2 separate regions of the Homo sapiens genome follow, and region 1 is linked to region 2. The links come from fine-mapping of genetic effects on gene expression. Tissue or cell type: whole blood. Region 2 holds a variant in brackets; the other region holds the start of a gene. All regions are shown on one strand. Distances are from middle to middle.

Region 1 (11,110 bases), 250 kb after region 2:
GAGAGATAAACTATGCTCATGGATAAAAAGACTTTACTATTAAAAAATTGAAGTCATAATTTAAAACATTTCTATATTAGAAATCTCAGCTCAGGAGGCCTTCATTGAAAATTCTACTAAATATTTAAATAAGCGATAACACCAAAGTTACATAAAATCTTTAGGAAAATAACAAAAGACTCCAACCAAGAAGTTCCGTAAGTTCAACTAACTTGATAATAAAGCCTGGCTAGGATATTACAAAAAAATAAAAACTATAAGCCAATATTATTCCCTAAAAGAGATACAAACATTCTAACAAAAAAAAATAGTAAGCCAAATTCAGTGAAATATGACCCCATTGGTTGTGTTCCACAATTAAAAGCATGTTTAACACTTTTTAATGTAAAAAAAACTATGTAATTATCATAAAAGTTACAAAAAGAATATTTGATAAATGTCAAATATATATTCAAGTTTTTAAAACCTGTTAGAAAACTAGAACTAATTTAACCTAAAACAAACATCATGAATGGTGGATTACTGAAAATTGCTCTCAGTGGTCATGAATGAAATACAGAGATCTTTTTTTTATCATTACCTCTATTCAGTATTATAGTAGAAGCAAAATCCATCAATATTCACAGACAATGCAAATGTACACATAACATATACAAAATGTTAAAGATATATTCTTAAAATTCAATAAGTACAACAAAGAGAAAATGATTTTAAAAATACCATTTAAAATGGCATGAAAAAATCAAATAACTAAGAATAAATCTGAAAAAATACAAGATCTGTACAAAAAATTATAAAATGTTATTGACAGAAATGAAATAGACTTAAATAACTAAAGAGCTATACCAGATTAGTGGGTCAGAAGACTTAATTTAAAATGATGCCAATTTTCTCCAAACCAAAGCACAGCTAATCAAAATTCCAGGAGGACTTTTGAGGAAGTTGATAAGTTAATTCTAAAATGTATGTGAAAATTCAAAGTGCTAAACTTAAAGAGGAATAATAAATTGAGAGAACTTGTTCTAAAGCAGTAGTTATCAAATTTGGCTGTGTGTTATAATCATCAGGAAGATTTTCAAAAACTGATGGTGATGCCTTACCTTTTACATAATTAAATCTTTACCTCTTGAGGAGAAACCTAGGCATTTATATTTTAAAATCAATCCAGGTATTTTTATTTCACAACCAAGTTTGAGAACCATGGCTCTGTAGCATATTATTAAATATAATCTAATAGAAAGTATATATTAGATATTGCATATCCACATTATTTAAGACAGGAAAAATTGATGTAAGGATAGCAAGTAGATGAATAGAACAGCATAAAAGGGAAAAGACCCAGGCATGTATGGACACTATTTCTGAGTAAGGTTAACAGAGTAAGATGATAGAGAAAAGGCAGCTTTTCAATAAATGTCACTGCACCAATTGACTCTGTAGAAGAGAAAAATAAATATTGCTCTCAACTTCAAACCATATACAAAAACATAAACCCAGATAGACTACAGATCTGAAGGTGAGGGTAAACAATAGGATTTCTAGAAGATAATACATATTTTCATGAACTTAGGGTAAAGAAAAAAATTGTTGACAACACAGAAAAAGGAAAATATAAACTGACTACACTAACACGAAAGTGGAAAACTTTCGTCCATTAAAAGACACAATTTTGAAAATAAAATATGAAACTATAGACTAAGAAAGTAATTTGCAACACAGAAAATTGACAAAGAGTAAATATCCCAAATATATATATACACATAAACTCCATCAAATCAATAACAAAAATGTATAAAATTCAACAGAAAAATGAGCAAGAAATATAAACCACCTCTGCAAAAAAGAGTATTTCCAAAAATCCAAGAAATATATGAAAAGGTGCTCAATCTTATTAGTCATCAAGGAGATGAAAACTAAAACCATGAGCTACCACTATACTCTTGCCAGAATGACTAAAATTAAGAAGACTGATAATATCGTGTTACTAAGCATATGAGTTAATTGGAACACAAATATACTGCTTGTAGGAAAGTAAATTGGGTTACTTAAGAAACTTGCTTTTCATTAGCTTCCAAGGGTGAATGTACACACACAATATGACATAGTAATCCTACTTACTTTTATGCCCTACTTAATGCATATACACGTAGGCACACATGTACAAGAATTTTCATGACAAAATTACTGGAAACTCCAAGCCAGAAATAATCCAAATGCCTATTGGCAGTAGAATTAATACATAAATTGTAGTATATTCATCTAATGGAATAACATACACTGAAAATGAATGAACTATATATAAAACAGCATGGATTAGTTTCACAAATATAATGTTAAACAGATATACCAACCAGAAAAGAATACATACTGTAATTTTCCATTTATGTAAGGGTCATAAATGGACAAAAGTCATGATAGTGGTTACACTTGAGGGAGATAGTATATAATGACTGAGAAAGAGCACAGGATAGGGCTTCTGGAATACTTGGAATTTTCTATTTCTGGACCAGGGTGGCAGTTACATGAATGTGTTTACACTGTGAAAATGATCAAGGTATTTAGTTTTTTCCCTCTTAATTGAAGTAAAACATAGTAGTAAAATAATAAGGTATGAAGAAGATGGTCTGGACACATAGAGGGACACTACATTCTTTCTTAAAACAATATAGAATGTCAATTCTTTCCAACTTAATCTACCAAATCAATAAATCCAATAAAAATCCCAGTTAGATTTCTTATAGAATCAATTGATTTAATAAAAACTCATTGAAAAAGTTATGAGATATTATCTCACTTCAGTTAAAATAGCTTTTATCAAAAAGATAAAAAATAATGGATGTTTGAGAGGATGTGGAGAAAAGGGAACGTTTATACTCGATGGGAATGTGTATCAGTACAGTCACTATGAGAAACAGTGTGAAGTTTTCACACACACACACACACAAAAATAGAACTACTTACAACCTAGTAATCCCACTGCTGGATATATATTCAAAAGAAAAGATATCAATATATTACAGATACCTGCATTCACATGTTTTTACAATAGCCAAAATATGAAATCAACTTAAATGTCCATCAACAGATGAATAGACAAATAAAATGTGGAATATTATTCAGCCATAAAAAAGAATGAAATCCTGTCATTTGCAACAACATGGATAGAACTGAAGGACATTAGGTTAAGTGAAATAAGCCAGGCACAGAAAGACAAATATCACATGTTCTCATTAATTTGTGGGAGCTAAAAAAATTGATATCATGGAGATAGAGAGTAGAATGATGGCTACCAGGTGCTGGGAAGGGTAGTGGGAGGGGGATAGAGAGGGGTTGGTTGATTAATGGGTACAGAAACACAGTTAAAAGGAATAAGATCTAGTGTTTGGTAGTACAATAGGGTGACTATAGCTAAAAATAATTTACTGTATATTTCAAAACAACTAGAGTAGTGGAATTGGAATGTTCCTAACATGAAGAAATGGTAAAAGTTTGAGGCAATGAATAATATCCCCATTACTCTGACTTGATTATTACACACTGTATCAAAATATCACATGTATCCCATAAATATGTATATATATTATGTATCTATAAAAACATTTTTAAAGTCTATGAATATCTAAGCCAATTTAGGAAAAAAGGATTGAAAACAAGGGATTGGTCTATACATCATTTCTATATTAACATGTATTGCAAGGCCATAGTTACAAAAATAGTGTGTTTGGGGGCAGCTAAGAAAAAAAATAAACTAATGGAATAGAAGAGATATTTTAGAGACAGACTGATACAGAGGTGAACATATAATATGATTTGAAGGAGGCAACAAAAATCAATGGCGGAAAGATTGTCAGCTTAGCAAATGGTACCTGGAAATCAGGTGAACTGTATAGAGAAAACTAAAATTGGATCCCTGTACAATTCATAACATTGTCCTCCAAATAGACTAAAAACTAAATGCAAAATATGAAACCGTAAAGTTGATAAAAACAACATAGGAAAATATCTTTTTAAAGTAGACATAAAGAAAGACTTTTTACGTAAAGCCTAAAAAACACAAACCATGAGACAAAAAATGATTTGGGGCTGGCTTAGAAATAGAGACATTGATAATATGATTATACACGGCAAAACATAGTCTGATTCCAAAAATCAACTTACAAATTAGTTAAATAAAACTGTACACTAAGCTGATAACAGCCCATATCAATTCATCACCTGCAAGTATGTGTGTGTATATTTTATATATATATATATATATATAATATATATAAAAACTGGAGCTGACGTGTTAATCTTTCTTTTACTTTGCAACATAATATGTAATACATTATTTTGTCTACGAACAAGAAAGACCTGCCTACCAACAGTTAAGTTATTTTCCTGGTAGTTTTGTCTTGATCTGTTTCTACAACTGCTTCAATTCTACCACTCTTGAGGCCAGAAATACACCTACAGAATTATTAATTGTATTCTATGTATTCAAACTAACCATGTAAAGATTCTAGGTTGTATATTGGAGGTTATAATGTTCTTTCACCTGAATTAACATAGTGAGTTACACCAAAACTCACTATCTTATTATTCAATAAGTTTAATTGAACTCTGAGTTTCAACATCAATTTTTAAAAATTATCTTGTAGCAATAATTTCTATACCTTCAAATTAAAATTTTCATTATTTAAGGAATTTGGAGTTAGGCCACTACAGAGTGAGAAAAACATTGGTATAAGCAACATTTAGGAGCTAAAAGTTTGGGAAATATTTGGAAATACTTCTTTCTAAACACTGTGCCTTTGATAGTTGCTTTTGTTTTAGCAAGCTAAATTTTATTTTTTATATTGTGGAAACATAAATATTGATAACTAAATTTATTATTCTTGATTACAACCAATTTCAAAGCAAAGGCAGAAATAGTTCACCATTCAAGGCCTACAGAAAGCTCAAGAAGCTTCACTCAATTCCTTATTTCTGTCTGTCCCAGAGTCCTGTCTAGTTTCTCCCCTCTCCAACACCATTGGCTTTTGACGATTCGTTGGTCAGTTCATTACTTTCTTTTGTGATCGCCTTTCCTTTACCAGAACTCACATATTTGCTGTTAAAATTCCCCCCCTCCAATTTTCAAAAATGTATACTTTACAAGAATGTTCTAGCCAGTAAAGGTATTGGAGAGTGCTTACCTTCAAGATAGATGCCTGCCTGGATTTCTAGAACCCTGGGTAGGGTCCTGAGGTCAAGGGAGTGGACGAATTCTTCCAGTGATAATGCCATTGCTATGCCTTGGGTAGTTTGTAGACCTGGTGCTCACAGAAACTTGTGGCTTCTGGGTGACACTTGTCTGCAATTGCAGCCCCTGCTCACCATTTCTTCCTCAGGCAGGCAGGAATGTCACACTACAGCCAGAGTGGGGTGGAGTAGCTCTATGTGGGGAGGACAATGAAGAGGGAGGGGGGAAGCAGGAGACAAAAAATGTTATAGCTCTTTTTGTTCACATTGTGGCTTCATTTCCTTCTGACATTGAAGTTGAACAGGATGGGGGTGGGGTGAACAGACACTGCCCAAAAAATGAGACGTGCTAAGTAGCGCATTCTGTCCTTTGTTAATCCAGGTGTGCATCTACTATGGTAGCAAAACTGAGGTCAGAGTTGCTTGTGGCTTGCCCACCAACAAAGAACAGGAATATAGGACTAAAGTCTAATCTTAAAAATGGCACCATGTGAATTCATTATCTCTCTAGTTCATTTCTAAAGCTTGGCTTTGTGCCTTATTTGCATACTGTCAGTGCCTTTACATTAAAATTGGTAATAAAAGTGCTTTGCGTCAGCTCTTTTTAGAATTCTGATACTATACTCTGGAGAGAGTATTGAAACCACTTTTTATTCTTCCACATTAAAAATTTTGCTGAATCTTAAAGGAGGGTAGGGTAGGGATAGAATATGCAAAATGATACAGTAAATTAACAAAGTACATTAAAATGAGTTTTCTAATCTCTACACTATAGTAGAAAGTATTAAAATTACTTGTCAGGAAACCTGCATTTTCTGGGTTTAGTTCTGCTTTTGATTTACAGGCTAACGTCAGCCTTGTCTTCTCTGATTTTCATTTGTTTTATTTACTAAATGGAGATGAAGTAGAAGAGTCCAATAAATTTTATAATTTCTTCCAAGTTCACAATTCCACAATTCTGATCTTATTGTTGAAATTTAGGAGGGGAAATGATCAGCACCAAAGGAAGCAGGAGAAAACTCATGAACATTGATCTCTTCAAAATCCTGCCCCTCTCTATTTTTTGCATGTAACTGAAACAATATTTAAAATATATACAATTAAAGGTGGTAGTTCCTAAGTCTCTTTAAGGTAAAGTAGAAGAATATTGGTTGAGGCTGGGTACGGTGGCTCATACCTGTAGTCCCAGCACTTTAGGAGGCTGAGGTAGGAGAATTGCTTGAGCCCAAGAATTCAAAACCAGCCTGGGCAACATAGTGAGACTTTGTCTCTACAAAAAAATTAAAAAATTAGCCAGGCATGGTGGCACATGCCTGTAGTCCCAGCTGTGAGGAGGCTGAGGAAGGAGGATCACTTGAGCCCTGGAGTTTGAGGCTACAGTGAGTTGTGAACATGCCACTGCATTCCAGGCTGAATGACACAGCAAGACTCTGTCTCAAAAAAAAAAAAAAAAAAAAATAAAGAATACTGGTTGGTATGTATACACTTGAAAGATGACAGGAATCTACACGTTTTCTTTAGTAACCAAACCCAGGCACTTATCTATTAACTGTTTTGGCCTTAGGCTGCAGAGAGCATAGCCACATACAGAGGGTCAGGGGACATCTCAGTTCTACCATGGCCATCATGTAAATGACCTAGAAAGATAAAAACTGCCTAGTTTTGATATGGAGCTTATAAAACTGTTTCAACTCTTTGTAATCCTATTTGACATTTTCAATAATCAGTCCAGCTTCATTTCTTTCTTTATAAAAGTAGAATTTACGATTGACCACATCAACAGGTTTACTATCATTAGATTCAAATTCCTCACTGGCAACTTTTTTGTCCAAAAATGTCCTACCCTTGATCTGTCTGCCTTCCATACCCCTCCCCACAGTTTACAGCCTAGTAGTGTATTTCATGTGGATGAATACATGAAAGAGGCTTCTGTGGACTGCTCCTTAAAAATTATGAATCCGTTAGAACTGATGCCACAATACATTTCATTTGATATCTAATGCAAGCTGGATATCACTTATTTTTTTAATATTCCCAAGTCAAATTTCTATCCTACTAGCCAAACAGCCATTTCGTATCACCAATCTCTTACAATTACCTAGGCTCCATCTGCTTCTGCTCTCGCGACAGATGACGCTCTCTCTGTGATAATCATCTTCGTATTCTCAGTCTTAATTAATGACACTGCTATTCTCTTAGTTTCCCAAGCCGGAAGGCTTAGAATCATGTGAGATGCCATTTTTTTTCTCTAGCCGTTAAATCCATCAGGCCCTATAGATGGCAATACTCAGTACCACTCACTCTGTCTTTGCTCTATATCCCCACTGCTACTGCTTTAGACCAGATCGTAATCACTTCTGACACACAGGCAAAAAAATCCTGATGTGAGCAGCCAAGTTAAGGTTGACAAAGAAGAGCAATGAGTTCAAGAGTACTTGAATCATCAAGTAAAATGAATTATTGAAGTTTGGTCATTAGAACAGCATGTTATAGGTGTAATAATAGATTAACGAGAATTTTAAAAAAAAAACTAGACTGTATATAATAATTTACTATTTGAAAAAGGTGAAATTCCAAGGCAGTGGGAAAGAATGTTTTATTCAACAAATGGTTGTTAAATAATTGGGGAGAAAATTTCCCTAACTTTCCATGCAATGAAATTAAAGTTAGATACATTTTAAAATTAAATTTAAATAAAAATAAACCAGAGGGGAAAAATAGGAAAATGTCTGGAAAAGGGTAAGAAAATAACTATTTCTGAGTAGTAATTGAAGGAAAAAACTAATAATATATTTGACAACTAACTTATGAAATACTCCTGTAAATCAAAAAGGAGTTTGAACAAAATAGAAAAAAAAAAAAGCACATCCTTCAAATAAACAATGGCTTAGGTGGGTAAAGGCCACTTGTTAGTCAATATGCAAAATAAAAATATTCAAAGACTTCTATTTCTGGCTATGAGCTTGTATCTGACCACGTTTTCTACCAAAGGCACCTAGAAGAGCTGTATACTTTTTAAAAAAGCTGTTTTAAGAAACAAGAGAGCTGTCAGGGTGCAGAACATGAGAGGCCAAGATCCTGTAAAGCAGAGCAGAACCATTAGAGGAACTCCATATTCTGCACTTCTTTTCCCTCAAGGCTTTTATGGGTTAGTAACTGGCACCAAGAGAGAGTCTGAGAAGGCAAAAACTGGTGGCTCAGGAGGAGAGAACCTGAGTTGAGTTTTTGGCAGTTTCACATAGCAAAAGAGACCAAAATAAATTGGACTTTGGGAAGTAGCAATTCCTCCAGGAAAAGTCAGAGAAAGGTATTGCTCAGCACCACTTTTTCCCCTTAAAATTTTTTTGCTCATTGAAAGCAGTACAGGGTTGATTGTATGAGACACAAACAAGAGCATGGTTGGTAGGAAGCTGAAGAAGCCAAGGAGTGCTTTCAGCAGTCTTGCAGAACTGGGAAGCCAGGGCCAGCCAAGGAGGGAGCAGGAGTCACAACAAATGCCTGTGTTCTCAGTTGGGGCTCCTGAAGGCTGCTTCCTAAGAGAAAGGGTTGCCTATAAATAGAACTAGCTTTACAAAAACTGAAGCTTAGACTAAAATTAGCTCAATCCCTCATTGGATTAAAGTGGTCTGCCCCTATTCTTGCTGCCAGATAGAAGCAAATGTAAATCCTCCTGTTGAGGAAAAGCAGCCAGAACTTCTGTAATATTTAAAAATACAACATCTATAATTAAGTATGAAATGAATGGGAATGCCAGAAGACAGGACAGAGAAAGACAGAGAGAAGGGAGACCACAGAAACAAACTCATGGGGTAATTCCGATATTGGAATTATTAGTCCTGCAATTTAAGATAATTTTGATAAACATGTTCAAAACTAGAAGACAAGAAGGAGAAAAGAACTGCCATCTATAGAAAGTATCGGATGAAAATTCTAGAGTTAAAAAATACAGTAACTGAAATTAAAAATTCAATAATTGGTTTTAACAGCAAATGGGACATACAGTAAGAGAGGATTGTTGAACTGGAAATGGGAGCGTAGGAAATATCTGCTCTCTCTCTTTCTCTCTCACTCTCTCTCTCTCTATCTATCTATCTCTGTGTCTCTGCAGAGAGATATTTCAGCCATAGTGGAAAGATCTTATATGTAAACTGAGTCCCAACGTGAGAGGAGAAATAATAGTGGGAGAAGAAATATTTTAAGAGATAATAGCTGAAGATTTTCCAAAGTTGAAAAAGGCATCAATCCATAGATTCAAGCCTTGCCAACACCACCAAGGAGGATAAATGCAAAAGAAGGCACACTAAGGAACATCATACTAAAACGTTAAAAAGCCAAAGTCAAAGAGAATATCTTAAATGCACTCTGAAGAAAAGAAATTGTCACTTTCAAAGGATCACCAATAAGATGATAGCTGACTTACTAACAAAAACCAATAAGGGTAGAACACAATGGAATACCATCATTAAAATGCTGAAAGAAACCAACTACCAACTTGATATTCTAAATCCAGAGACGCATGAAAGCAACAGCAAAATAAAGACATTTTCAGACAAACAAAAACTAAGAAAATTCATCACCAGTAAACTCTCACTAAAAGAAATACTATAAAGGGTGTTCTGCAGGCGAAAGTAAAATGATCTCAGACAGAAAGTCAAGACCACAGGAAGGAATGAAGAGGGTGAATATGTCAGTGAACTGAATATATTGAGTTCCCAAAACAATAATTAATGGCTTGTGGAGTTTTGAATATATCTGCACTATATATAGTTCATGCAATATATTGTAAAATATAGCAGTAATGCAAAAGCAAAACTGATAATGAAGTTAAAATGTTCTAAAGCATTAGCCTTCTAGAGAAGTTGCAAAAGTGATGTTTAATATCAGAGTTAAATAAATAAAAACACATGTAATTTCTAGGAAAGCCACTAAAAATGGTAAATGAATGATAAAATTAATTAATCCAAAAAAGACGAGAAAGAAAAGAAAAAGAACCTCAAAATTGCTAGCAAACATTATGATGGTATACATAAACTCAATTATACTCTTAAAATAATTTAAATGAAATAATTACATTTAAATGAAATAATTTAAATGTAATTAAATGAAATAATTTAAATGTAATTTAAATTAAATAATTTAAATGAAATAATTTTTACAAATAAAAATTAAATAGTTTAATAGTTCAAGTAATAAACTAATGTTGGCAGATAACATTTAAACACATAAATCTACTTAAAAATATACAATTTAGTTATAAGTTTATAGAAAGTCTAAAGATGAAAAAATGGGAAAATAAATACCATAAGACATTAAGCAAAAGAAAGCTCATGAAACTACATCAATATTACATCAATTAGATTTAAAGACAAGAAGGATTATAAAAGATAATAAGGTTATTTGTTTAATAATGAAAGGGTGACCAATTCTTAAAGAAAATTCACAGCTTTCAATAATATACCTTCAAAATATCTAAAGCAAAATTGACCAAATGAATGGAATCAGAGTAAAAACCAACCTGACAGAAAAAGCAAATATTTATTTCATAAAATTCATACTGTTAATGGTGCAATGTTTAGTCACTCATCTATATTACAAACTGTTGTGATCTATCTTGAAATCAATTTGATGTAGCAATTTCACATTTAGATATAATCAGATACACACAAAGATTTATTTATACCATCAACTGAAGCATTTATTACTTTAATGACCAAAAAAAGGAGGAGAAAAGAAAAGAAAATGCATTTCACATTACCCTAATAATTCAAACAGGGAAGTTCCTGTTGGAAAAAAAATATTGTCCTCACACCAGTCTTGCTACTACTTAACACATCTTTTTAAAATTTCTGCTAAAGAACAGAGAAGGACTTGGCTATGAAATGATGAT
Region 2 (11,110 bases):
AAAGTACATAAGGAATGTAAATATAAAATATAAAACTATGAAATTCTAGAAAATAAATAGGTTAAAATCTTGGGCACCTAGAACTAGGTGAAGAGGTCTTAGACATGACTCCAAAAGTATAACATGTAAAAGGAAAATTGATCGGACATCTGGAAAATTTAAAAAATTCACTCTGTGAAAGAGTTTGTTAAAAAAATGGAAAGATAAGCTGACGACTGTGAGAAAATATTTGCAAACCACATATCCAACAAAATATCTAGAATATATTAAGATTTCTCAAAACTCAGCAATAAACAATCCAATTAGAAGATGAGAAAAAGACATAAACAGACATTTGATAGAAGAGATACTGATGCCAAATAAGCACATGCAAAGATGTGTAACATCATTGGCCATTGAAGAAATAAAAACTAAAACCACAATAAGATATGACTAATGCTCATCAGAATGGCTAAAATAAAAGCAATAATGATAACACAAACACTAGTGTGGATGTGGGGAGAGTGTCACTCATATGTGGTACATCAACTGTGAGAAATAATTTGGAGGTTATTTATAAACTAAAATGGACCTACCATATGACCTGGCAATTACCCTCTTAGGCATACATCTCAGAGAAATAACTTATTTTCCCTCAGAAAATTACGAATAGATATTCACAGCACCTTAATTTGTAGTACTCAGAAGCCCAAATGTGCTTCGGTGGTTGAATAATTAAGCAAAGGTGGTATATCTATGGCATAAACTCAGAAATAAAAGGGAATGAACCATTAATACACGCAGCAACTTGAATGAACCTTAAGGAAATTGTTTTTAATGGCAAAAAAGGCTAATATCAAAAGGAAACAGGTTGCATGTTTTCATTTACATAACACTTGTGAAATAGCTTAAGTATTGCCATGAAGTACATATTAGTTATTGCCAGGGCTCAGGGTGGGATGTAGGGTGGGTGTGGATATAAGTAGGTAGGATGAGGAAGTCTTGTGGTAATGGATGGTTAAGTATTTAATATCTTGATTTTGGTAGTGAACCAATGTCAACAGTCTGATGTTGATAATGTAAAATGGTGACATTGGGAAAGTATAGGTGAAAGGGTACACGTGAACTCCCTGTATTATTTCTTTTCACTTTACTATAAATCTATAATTATTGAAAAATTAAGTTTAAAAGATGAGGGTATATGTTGGTTTGTTATATATGGCTGAATTCTCCTGCAAGGGTTGTAATATTTTTCTCTGCACCAGTAATAACGCTTTTAAGTTGTCCATCTTTTTGCTAATTTTAGAGCAGAGAAATGGTATCCTAGTATTCATTTGCATTTCTCTTATTATGAATATGTTAACACAATGTCAAAGCAAATTCACATGAATCATAAAATTTTCCAACCTCAATCTTAACTAATGATTTTAAGGATTCAAGCCAGAAGTAGACATGGACAGAATTTAGTTTTAGATGACAGGGAGTTATTCATACACTGCATCCTAATTGTCTTTTTTTTCCCTAAAGTAATGTGCAGTTTCAACTTGGATTAACAGACATTTCTGAAGAATATATGCAAATACATTGTTTTCAAAGACATCAATTTCAGTTTTGGGGCTCCCCAGCTTTATGCTTTGTTACTTACACAGATAAAGAAATGCCTATATGATTAACTCCCATCACCAGCTCTGCCTCAGAAATCCATAAGCGTTATGTTTATTTGCAATAACTGTCCTGGTGCATGCCATCTGAATAAAAAGCATTTTTATAGACTGAATCTCTGTTATTCAGCCACTTGTTTACTAGGAGATCTGATATAGGTTGTTAACCTATGTGTAAAGAAATCTGGTGTAAGTTAATAATTACCATGGACATTCTGCTTAGGGAGGGATGAAGCACAAGTCTCTGTTAATTTATTTCCAAGGAATACAGTTAGCCAAGGCAATCCTAAGCAAAAAGAACAAAGCCAGAGGCATCGCACTACTTGACCTCAGACTATACTATAGGGCTACAGTAACCAAAACAGCATGGTACTGGTACAAGGGCAGGCACATAGACCAATAGAACAGAATAGAGAACCCAGAAATAAGGCCAGACACCTACAACCATCTGATCTTTAACAAAACTGACAAAAACAAGCAATGGAGTGAAGACTTCCTATTCAATAAACGGTGCTGGGATAACAGGCTAGCCATATGCAAAAGATTGAAGTTAGACCCCTTTCTTACACCATATACAAAAATCAACTAAAGATGGATTAAAGACTTAAATGTAAAACCCAAAACTATAACAATCCTGGAAGACAACCTAGGTAATACCATCCTGGACATAAGAATGGGTAAAGATTTTATGACAAAGACACCTGGTGCAACCTCAACAAAAGCAAAAATTGACAAATGGGATCTAATTAAACTTAAGAGCTTCTGCACAGCAAAAGAAATGATTAACAGAGTAAACAGGCAACCTACAAAATGTGAGAAAATATTTGCAAACTATGCATCTGACAAAGGTCTAATATCCAGCATCTATAAGGAACTCAAACAAATTTACAAGAGAAAATCAAACAACCCTATTAAAAAGTGGGCAAAAGACATGAATAGACAGTTTTCAAAAGAAGACATATATGGAGCCAATAATTATGTAAACAAAGCTCAACATCACTGATTATTAGAGAAATTTAAATCAAAGCCACCATGAGATACCTTCTCACACCAGTCAGAATGGCTATTAATAAAAAGTCAAAAAATAGCAGATGCTGGGGAGGTTGTGGAGGAAAAGAACACATACACTGTTGGTGGAAGTGTAAATTAAATTGGTTCAACCATCGTTGAAGACAGTGTGGTGATTCCTCAAAGACCTAAAGACAGAAATACCATTGGACCCAGCAATTCCATTACTGAGAGATACGGTTTGGCTATGTTTCCATTCAAATCTCAACTTGAATTGTATCTCCCAGAATTCCCACATATTGTGAGAGGGACCCAGGGGGAAGCAATTGAATCATGAGGGCTGGTCTTTCTCATGCTAATCTCATGATAGTGAAAATGTCTCATGAGATCTGATGGATTTGTCAGGGGTTTCTGCTTTTGCTTCTTCCTCATTCTCTCTTGCTGCCACACTGTAAGAAGTGCCTTTCACCTCCCACCAGATTCTGAGGCCTCCCCAGCCATATGGAACTGTATGTCCAAGTAAACCTCTTTTTCTTCCCATCTTGGGTATGTCATTATCAGTAGCATGAAAATGGACTAATATGCTGGGTACATACCCAAAGGAATATAAATCATTCTATTATAAAGACACATGCATGTTTATGTTCATTGCAGCACTATTCACAATAGTAAAGACATGGAATCAACCTAAATGCCCATCAGTGGTGGACTGGATAAAGAAAATGTGATACGTATACACTACAGAATACTATGCAGCCATAAAAATGAATGAGATCATGTCCTTTGCAGGAAAATGGATGGAGCTGGAGGCAATTATCCTTAGCAAACTAATGCTGGAAGAGAAAACCAAATACCACATGTTTTCACTTGTAAGTGAGAGCTAAATGATGAGAACACATGGACACATAGAGAAGAACGACACACACTGGGGCCTACCAGAAGGAGGAGAGGTGGGGGAGGGAGAAGATCATGAAAATAACTAATAGATACTAGGCTTAATACCTGGATGATGAAATAATCTATACAACAAACTCCATGACACATGTTTACCTATGTAACGAACCTGTGCATCCTACCTATGTACCCCTGAAATTAAAAGTAAAAAAAAATTAGAGGGTGTTGAAATTTTATTTTTATTTATACCTGGCTATTAAGAGGCAACATCTAAGCTCTTGGAATATTGTGCCTGATAAGAGTGTCTTTGTTTACTTGGGGCCTTGGGCACCCCATACAGTCTGTGTGAACAATATAATTTATGGAGTGGGCCTTGGTTCATGCAGTACCAGCCAGACCTGTGCAGGGGCTGGAGGTTCAGGTCAAGTACCCAGGAAGTCAATCATACCTATTTGACTTACCTCCAATAGAAACTCTGGACACACTGGGCTTGAGTGTGCTTCCCTGGTTGACGATAGACTGTATGAATTGTCACATATTGTAAAACAATAAAGTTGAGCATTTTTTCATGTTAAAGTAGCATTTGAATATCTATTTTACAAATTTCCTTTTCATGTCTTTTGCCTGTTTTTAAAATTGTGTCTTTTCTGTTTCAGTTGATTTTTAAGATTTTCTTTCTCAAAGGGAAACTGCAACAACACAACAACAACAACGAAAATGTACCTAGAAAGGATAAAAGGGTCCCTGGGGACAAATCATTGTGATGTGGAACCAAAATACATCATAAGCATAATTAACATGGTCCAGGACAGCATAGAACATCTATATCAGTCTTCCTTATACAATAATCACGAAAACTGATCAATGAATTTCTTTAACATGTACAAAAAACTGTCATGGGCTGGTTTAAACTTTTGCAACAGTTTTAAAGTTAACAGGATAACTAAAGAAATGATGCAGACATTTTAATCCAGTGCTATAGGTAGGCTCAAAGAATTAGACTCAAAGATTTGTAAAAATAAAAATGAAAACAGTATAGCTACAATGTCAAAGTCAGGAAAGAAGAAAATTTACTTCTGTATTCAAGGATTACAGTGGTACGAAATGCAGTCTGCGTGTTTTTGTTTGTAATGAGATGGATAAGTACATCAGACTAGATACAACATGCAGAATATTTTCCTGAACTTACCCAGAAATTCTAAAGAAAACATCACGAAACAGCTCACTAGAAAAAAAAAATGCCCTAGTTATTTACCCTGCTTCAACACTGTTAACGTAAAGGCAGAAATAAAGAAAGCTATCAATACCTCAGAACTACTGATATAAGACATCACATTTCTAAATCAGTGTATTCAAAAAGTGAACACTTTCTCTTTTTTCTCTCTTCTACATTTAACTAGAATCATGTTTTAAAAAATTGATATTAAATGTGACACTTCAGAGCTACTACTAGAAGCAGTAATTCATAACTTGCCTACCCTCCTTCCATCCCTGCTGATTCAGGAGAAGGGGGAAAAAACAAAGAAAACAAAACAAAAAACTAACCAGGGTGTCTTGTAGATTTGCTGCTATGCCACAAAATGTTGGCATTTGCTGCCATGCCACAATGTTGGTCCACTGAAATAGGATTTCTGCGGAAACTGTCAACAGTAATTCACCATATGCAAGTACCATCCTTAGCATGTGAGAATAATAACAGGTTCTGTAGAAATGTACAATGTGCTGAAGATAATGAAAATTGTAGCACTGCATTTGAGATTTATTTGTCTACTTATCTAGTAAAACTTGTCATTTTTGCTCACTTAATTATGGTCATTTGTGATTCCTTTAAATAGCAAAAATGCACAGTGCCCTTTAGGCCTCTACTCAATAATAGTTTACATTACTCTTAACAAAATCATTCTACATAAACTGATAGCTCCTTAAAAAGAGTACTCTCTCATTAAATCTAATTTGACAGAAAGAAGTTTAAGGAAAAAAGGAGTGTTTTATAAGTGAAAAACTACAGATCTTTGGCCTTTCTCTTGACATTTTCATATGTCAAAAAGCAAAAATACCTTCAGGTAATTCAATCTAGTGATTACTTTTTGCACCATAATTTGTTTTTTACACCACAAGAGGAGTCACTTTCAGTATCTGTAAAAGGTATTTAATCCTAAAACATACTTACCTAGAGAATAATTAAAACAATTCAATACACTCTAATATCTATTAGGAAGTTAAGAGTTACCAGTTTAAAAGTCTTTTGAAAGTCAATGATGTTACCTGGTCAATGGCAGGAAATAGGGATTGGAACAAATATAAGAACTTATGGGATTTCCTACATGAAGGCGAAAAAAGATATTCCTTTATGTTGTTTAAAAGTAGCAGCTACTCTTTCTTTATTTCATTTTAATCAATTAGTATTCATTCAAGTTTTCCCTTCTATTTTTCCTTGTAAGTTTCTTACAGTAGCTTATACAACAATGAATAGCAAACAAAAACTACTGGATTCAATTGATCATCAGAAATAAGTTCTCAGAAAAACACAGGTGGAAAAATGAGCGAGAATCCCAAATACAGAAATTTACAAGGTGTGAAACTTCATCTCTTGCAATCGTGTTA[C/T]TGCTCAAATTAGAGACAATCTTATTTCTATCTATTGGAGCAGCATCTTGGCACATCAACAGGCAATGATGAGGTTGAGAACAGCAGCAAAAATAAACAATCGTATGCTCATGAAGAACCCAAGCCTACCAGATGGATGCCTTTCAGAAAAGCGTATACTTAAAAGACCCAAGACGTCAGGATGATAAAGCTCTGTATTTATAGTCTTTTATATGTCCTTTTGTATGTCCTATTGTGGCTACTATGCTTAAGTAAAATAGCTACAGGAAAAAAAAAAAAGATGACAATATAATAAAAATGTAGCTGTCTCTTTTGGCAGCTATATTGCAGAATTTCTTGACTATCTTTTGATCAGCTGGGGAAAAGTCAATAACTGAATGCAAACGAATAAATTGTCCATATAAAAATACAAAAGTACTGTCAATAATCACCTCTGACTTTCAGGTTTAAATTCAGTGCAATTGACAAATGCATTGCTAAAGGAAAATGCAACTTAAAAGATACTCAAAACATTTGGGTCTATTGCTGGGACCACATTTCAAAATTCTTGCACAGATTTTTTTTAATTTTAATTTTAATTTTTAAACAATAACAGAGATCAACCACAGATGTGGACCTCTAGCAATAAAAGCAGGAATTCAAGTGCCAGATATTCAGCATATTAGGTTTCCTACAGAAGTCACAGGTTAAGAAGTTCTAAATATCTCTAATGTGATTCAAAACCCTAAAAAGAGCTGGCACAAAACCATCGTGAATGACTGCCTCTACTGATGCAAATTTTTTTTTTTTTTTGAGATGGAGTCTCACTCTGTCATCCAGGCTGGAGTGCAATGGTGTGGTCTCGGCTCACTGCAACCTCCGCCTCCTGGGTTCAAGCGATTCTCCTGCCTCAGCTTCCTGAGTAGCTGGGACTACAGGCGCATGCCACCTCACCCGGCTAATTTTTGTATTTTTAGTAGAGACGGGGTTTCACTATGTTGGCCAGGCTGGTCTCCAACACCTGACCTCGTGATCTGCCCACCTTGGCCTCCCAAAGTGCTGGGATTACAGGCATGAGCCACCGCGCCAGGCCTGTATGTAAATTTTTAAAAATATTATTACGGTATCATAGTCCCCACTAACAACAACTGGGATACATATAACAATGTATTGTGAAATTAAGTGTATTTATAATCTCTACCAATAGCAAATGCTACCCTACCTTGGTAAAACCAAGAGTTGCTTCAATCAATGCTGTTTTGTAAAAATAGCAAAGCAACAATTGCTGAAAATCAAAGTTGCATTCCTTGGGTTAAGCCAGTTTCTACTTAAACTTTAGTACTAAAAGGCCTCAAAATAATTCATGACAGAAATAGTGTTATTAATTTGCCAAGCTCAACAATAAGGAATTCCTTGATTAAAATCTTTGAGATATAAATTTGATGACCTTTCTCTTTAGAGATGACATACCTGGATTATACTAATCATGACAAGCCTTATTAGTCACACTTATAAACATGGCCTCATGCAATCGTTTGTCTGTATATGTTACTCTTAGTTGCATGAGAACAAGAGGTTTAATTTAATGTCTATGTCTTTAAGAAAATACTTGATATTATAAACAGAGTAAAAGACATGATAAAGTAGTGATACTGAAACAAAAATTAGCTGCTTAAATCTATCTATATTTGAAAAAATGTAGTCACAAGTATCACAAGTGCAGAATCAGAGCAGCAGGCAGAAGGTTAGTGCAATTATACTTTCATAAAAAAAAAAATCGCAATCACTGCTATTTAAAAACACCTTGAAGCAAGTCTTTTGTTTTAGAGATTGTTTTTTAAACTAAGGTAGCAAACATTTTGCCATGTAATGGAAGTGTTATATGCCGTTATCTTGCTTTGTATAAAGAAAACAACATGAGAGATTTCTAATAGTGGAGTTTGGTTACATTACATATTTAAGCTTCTACACAGAATGATAGACAATTCGAGAAGCGAATCCTTACCCAGAAACATTTCAATCTCTCAAAAAAAAAGCAAAACAAACAAACAAACAAACAAACAACAAAAAACCCAAAACTACTTTGCTCCTTTTCACAATAGTGCACATTTTTACCATAATTTATTTATGGCTACAAAACATCAGAAGTGGTTTTTTTTTTTTTTTTTTTTTTTTTTTTTTTTTTTTTGAGTTGGCGTCTCGCTCTGTCACCCAGGCTGGAGTGCAGTGGCGCGATCTCTGCTCACTGCAACCTCCGCCTCCCGGGTTCAAGCGATTCTCCTGCCTCAGCCTCCTGAGTAGCTGGGATTACAGGCGCCCGCCACTGCGCCTGGCTAATTTTTGTATTTTTGGTAGAGATGGTGTTTCACCATCTTGGCCAGGCTGGTCAAGAACTCCTGACCTCAGGTGATTCACCCGCCTTGGCCTCCCAAAGTGCTGGGATTATAGGTGTGAGCCACTGCATCCAGCCAATTTTTTAAAAAGGTATTTTCTCTATGGTAATTAAAACAACAACAACAACATTTTGTGCCCTTCTAGTCTTTAATTGGTAGAAATATGTCCCCCAAAAGAAACTATTGCATTTATGCCACATCGCCTAAAAAGAAAAAACAAACAAACAAAGAACCAAAACCAACAGAACATAATACACCTTTTATGGATGTGTCTTACAGACTGACATGACCAAAGTCATGTTTTCATTTAATTTCCAATTCTCCCTTCCACAACATGCACCAATTGAATATGTGCTCTGGGAGCCATAAAATGTACCAAACATCTACCTCTTCAAAAGAATGCATTAAAATATTTTAAAGAATTTTTTGTTGTTTAAAAGCTGAAAAAATATAAACAAGAAACTGATTCATTCCCTTACTTCATGCACCCATAATCTAAACCAAAAACAAAATTTTAAAGCAAGAACAAACTACCACTGCAAGTTTTTGTGTCCATTTTCTCTGTACATACAAACTGCTCACTACTGAAGGGAAAAAAGAATATAATCCTTGGTGTCTGCGGATTCAAAGGGGAGAAACGAGGCTGTCAGGTGGTATCCAAAAACTGGTACATGTATGTTCTGCTTTTATAATGTGTATTTTTCTCTCTTCTGTTTTTCATATCCAAAACTTCTAAATGCTATTTTAGGGGCACAGTAGATTAGATTCCAGCACTTGGTGAACAGAATTCACAAGCTGTGACAAAACTGTCATCTTCAGGGTGCAATTTTGTTTATATACATTGTATGTATATATTTCTTTCTGTTTTTCTTTTCTTTTCTTTTTTTTTTTTGAGAAGGAGTCTCGCTCTGTTGCCTAGTCTGGAGTGCAGTGGCACAATCTCTGCTCACTGCAACCTCCGCCTCCCAGGTTCAAGCGATTCTCCTGTCTCAGCCTCCCGAGTAGCTGGGACTACAGGCACGCACCACCATGCCCGGCTAATTTTTGTATTTTTAGAAGAGACAGGGTTTCACCATATTGGCCAGGCTTGTCTCGAACTCCTGACCCTTGATCCGTCTGCCTCTGTCTCCCAAAGTGCTGGGATTACAAGCATGAGCCTCTGCGCCCAGCCTATATTTCTTTTAGATTTGGCTGTAGTCGACTGGCCATGGTTCAAGTGGGACTATAGCAGTACGTGGGTCAGGGACAGTCATTTTGGCTATGTACACATTCATAGTTGGTCCATGGCTTCCAACTAGTAGCGCTATTTCCGAAAGTCTAATACACAAACTGAACCATCTGATGCACTGGCTCCAACTTTGTCTCCTGCGGCATTCCAGCAAACTTCAAAAATTCCATCTGTTCCCCTACAGTGTGAACTAGAGCACCTGTCTGTGTGTTCCAGATGTGTACACATTTGTCAAAAGAATTGCTGGCCAGATACCGGCCATCAGGACTGAAAGCTACACTGTACACAGGCTTCTCATTCAGCATTTACCTTCGGTATAGAAAGCCGTATCAGTCAGTCCAATATAAATGGTGCCCTCGTCCCACCTGCTGCATTGATTTCTATCATCCAGAAAGGTCTACAGTATGTAGAAGCAGAAGTTAGTATTAATGAGGATGGTACTTTCTTTGATGGTCGACCAATGAGTCTGTCCCTGATAGACGCCTTAATGCCTGATGTAGTACAAACAAGACAACAAGCTTATAGCGATAAGCTTAAACAGCAACAGGCAGCAGCTGCCACAGCCAACCAACAAGGATCTGCAAAAAAAAAAAAAAAAAAAAAAAAAAAAAAAAATGCAGAAAACACAGCAAATGGGGAGGAGAATGGAGCACATATTATAGCAAATAATCATACTGATACGATGGAAGTGGATGGAGATATTGAAATCCCTCCTAATAAAGCAGGACAAGGATAAATTCATGTCCTTTGCAGGGATGTGGATGAAGTCCTGTTGGACTCCATTTGATAGGATAAATTTCTTTATTATGTGCTTGCAAATCATGGACACAATTGTCTTGTTTCATACTCCATATCTTTAAAGTCATGTCATCAGAACAAGAGGCCAGGAGATTGCCAGTTGGGTCCCATTTGATAGCATTTACTTCATTCTTATGTCCCTGGAATGTTTTAATAGGTCTGTCTTGTGACCCAGTGATCCCATTACTCAGTATATACCCAAAGGATTATAAATAATGCTACTATAAAGACACATGCACATGTATGTTTATTGCAGCACAATTCACATTAGCAAAGACTTGGAACCAACCCAAGTGTTCATCAATTAGGAAAATGTGGCACATATACACCATGGAATACTATGCGGCCATAAAGAAGGATAAGTTCATGTCCTTTGCAGGGACGTGGATGAAGCTGGAAACCATCATTCTGAGCAATCTATCCCGAAGACAGAAAACCAAACACTGGACGTTCTCCCTCATAGGCAAGAGTTGAACAATGAGAATGCACGGACACAGGGCGGGGAACATCACACACCAGGACCTGTCGGGGCGTGGGGGGTATGAGGCAGGGATAGCATAGGAGAA

The links. PIP is the estimated chance that this variant, and not a neighbour inherited with it, causes the effect.
Region 1: it holds the start of THEMIS, and the variant in region 2 is the best candidate, but not a certain one, in a credible set for the expression of THEMIS in whole blood (INTERVAL, PIP 0.63).

The regions. Positions count from the first base shown.
Region 1 is chr6:127,895,665-127,906,774 of GRCh38, forward strand. THEMIS (thymocyte selection associated) reads right to left here and starts at 5,394. Exons shown (of 6, transcript NM_001010923.3): 1 at 5,178-5,394. The coding sequence starts at 5,268.
Region 2 is chr6:127,649,869-127,660,978 of GRCh38, forward strand. It overlaps the pseudogene LOC100421513. Among named protein-coding and RNA genes, the nearest start is that of LINC02536, 8.4 kb to the right of the region's middle. The variant C/T (reference allele first, on the strand shown) is at 6,147.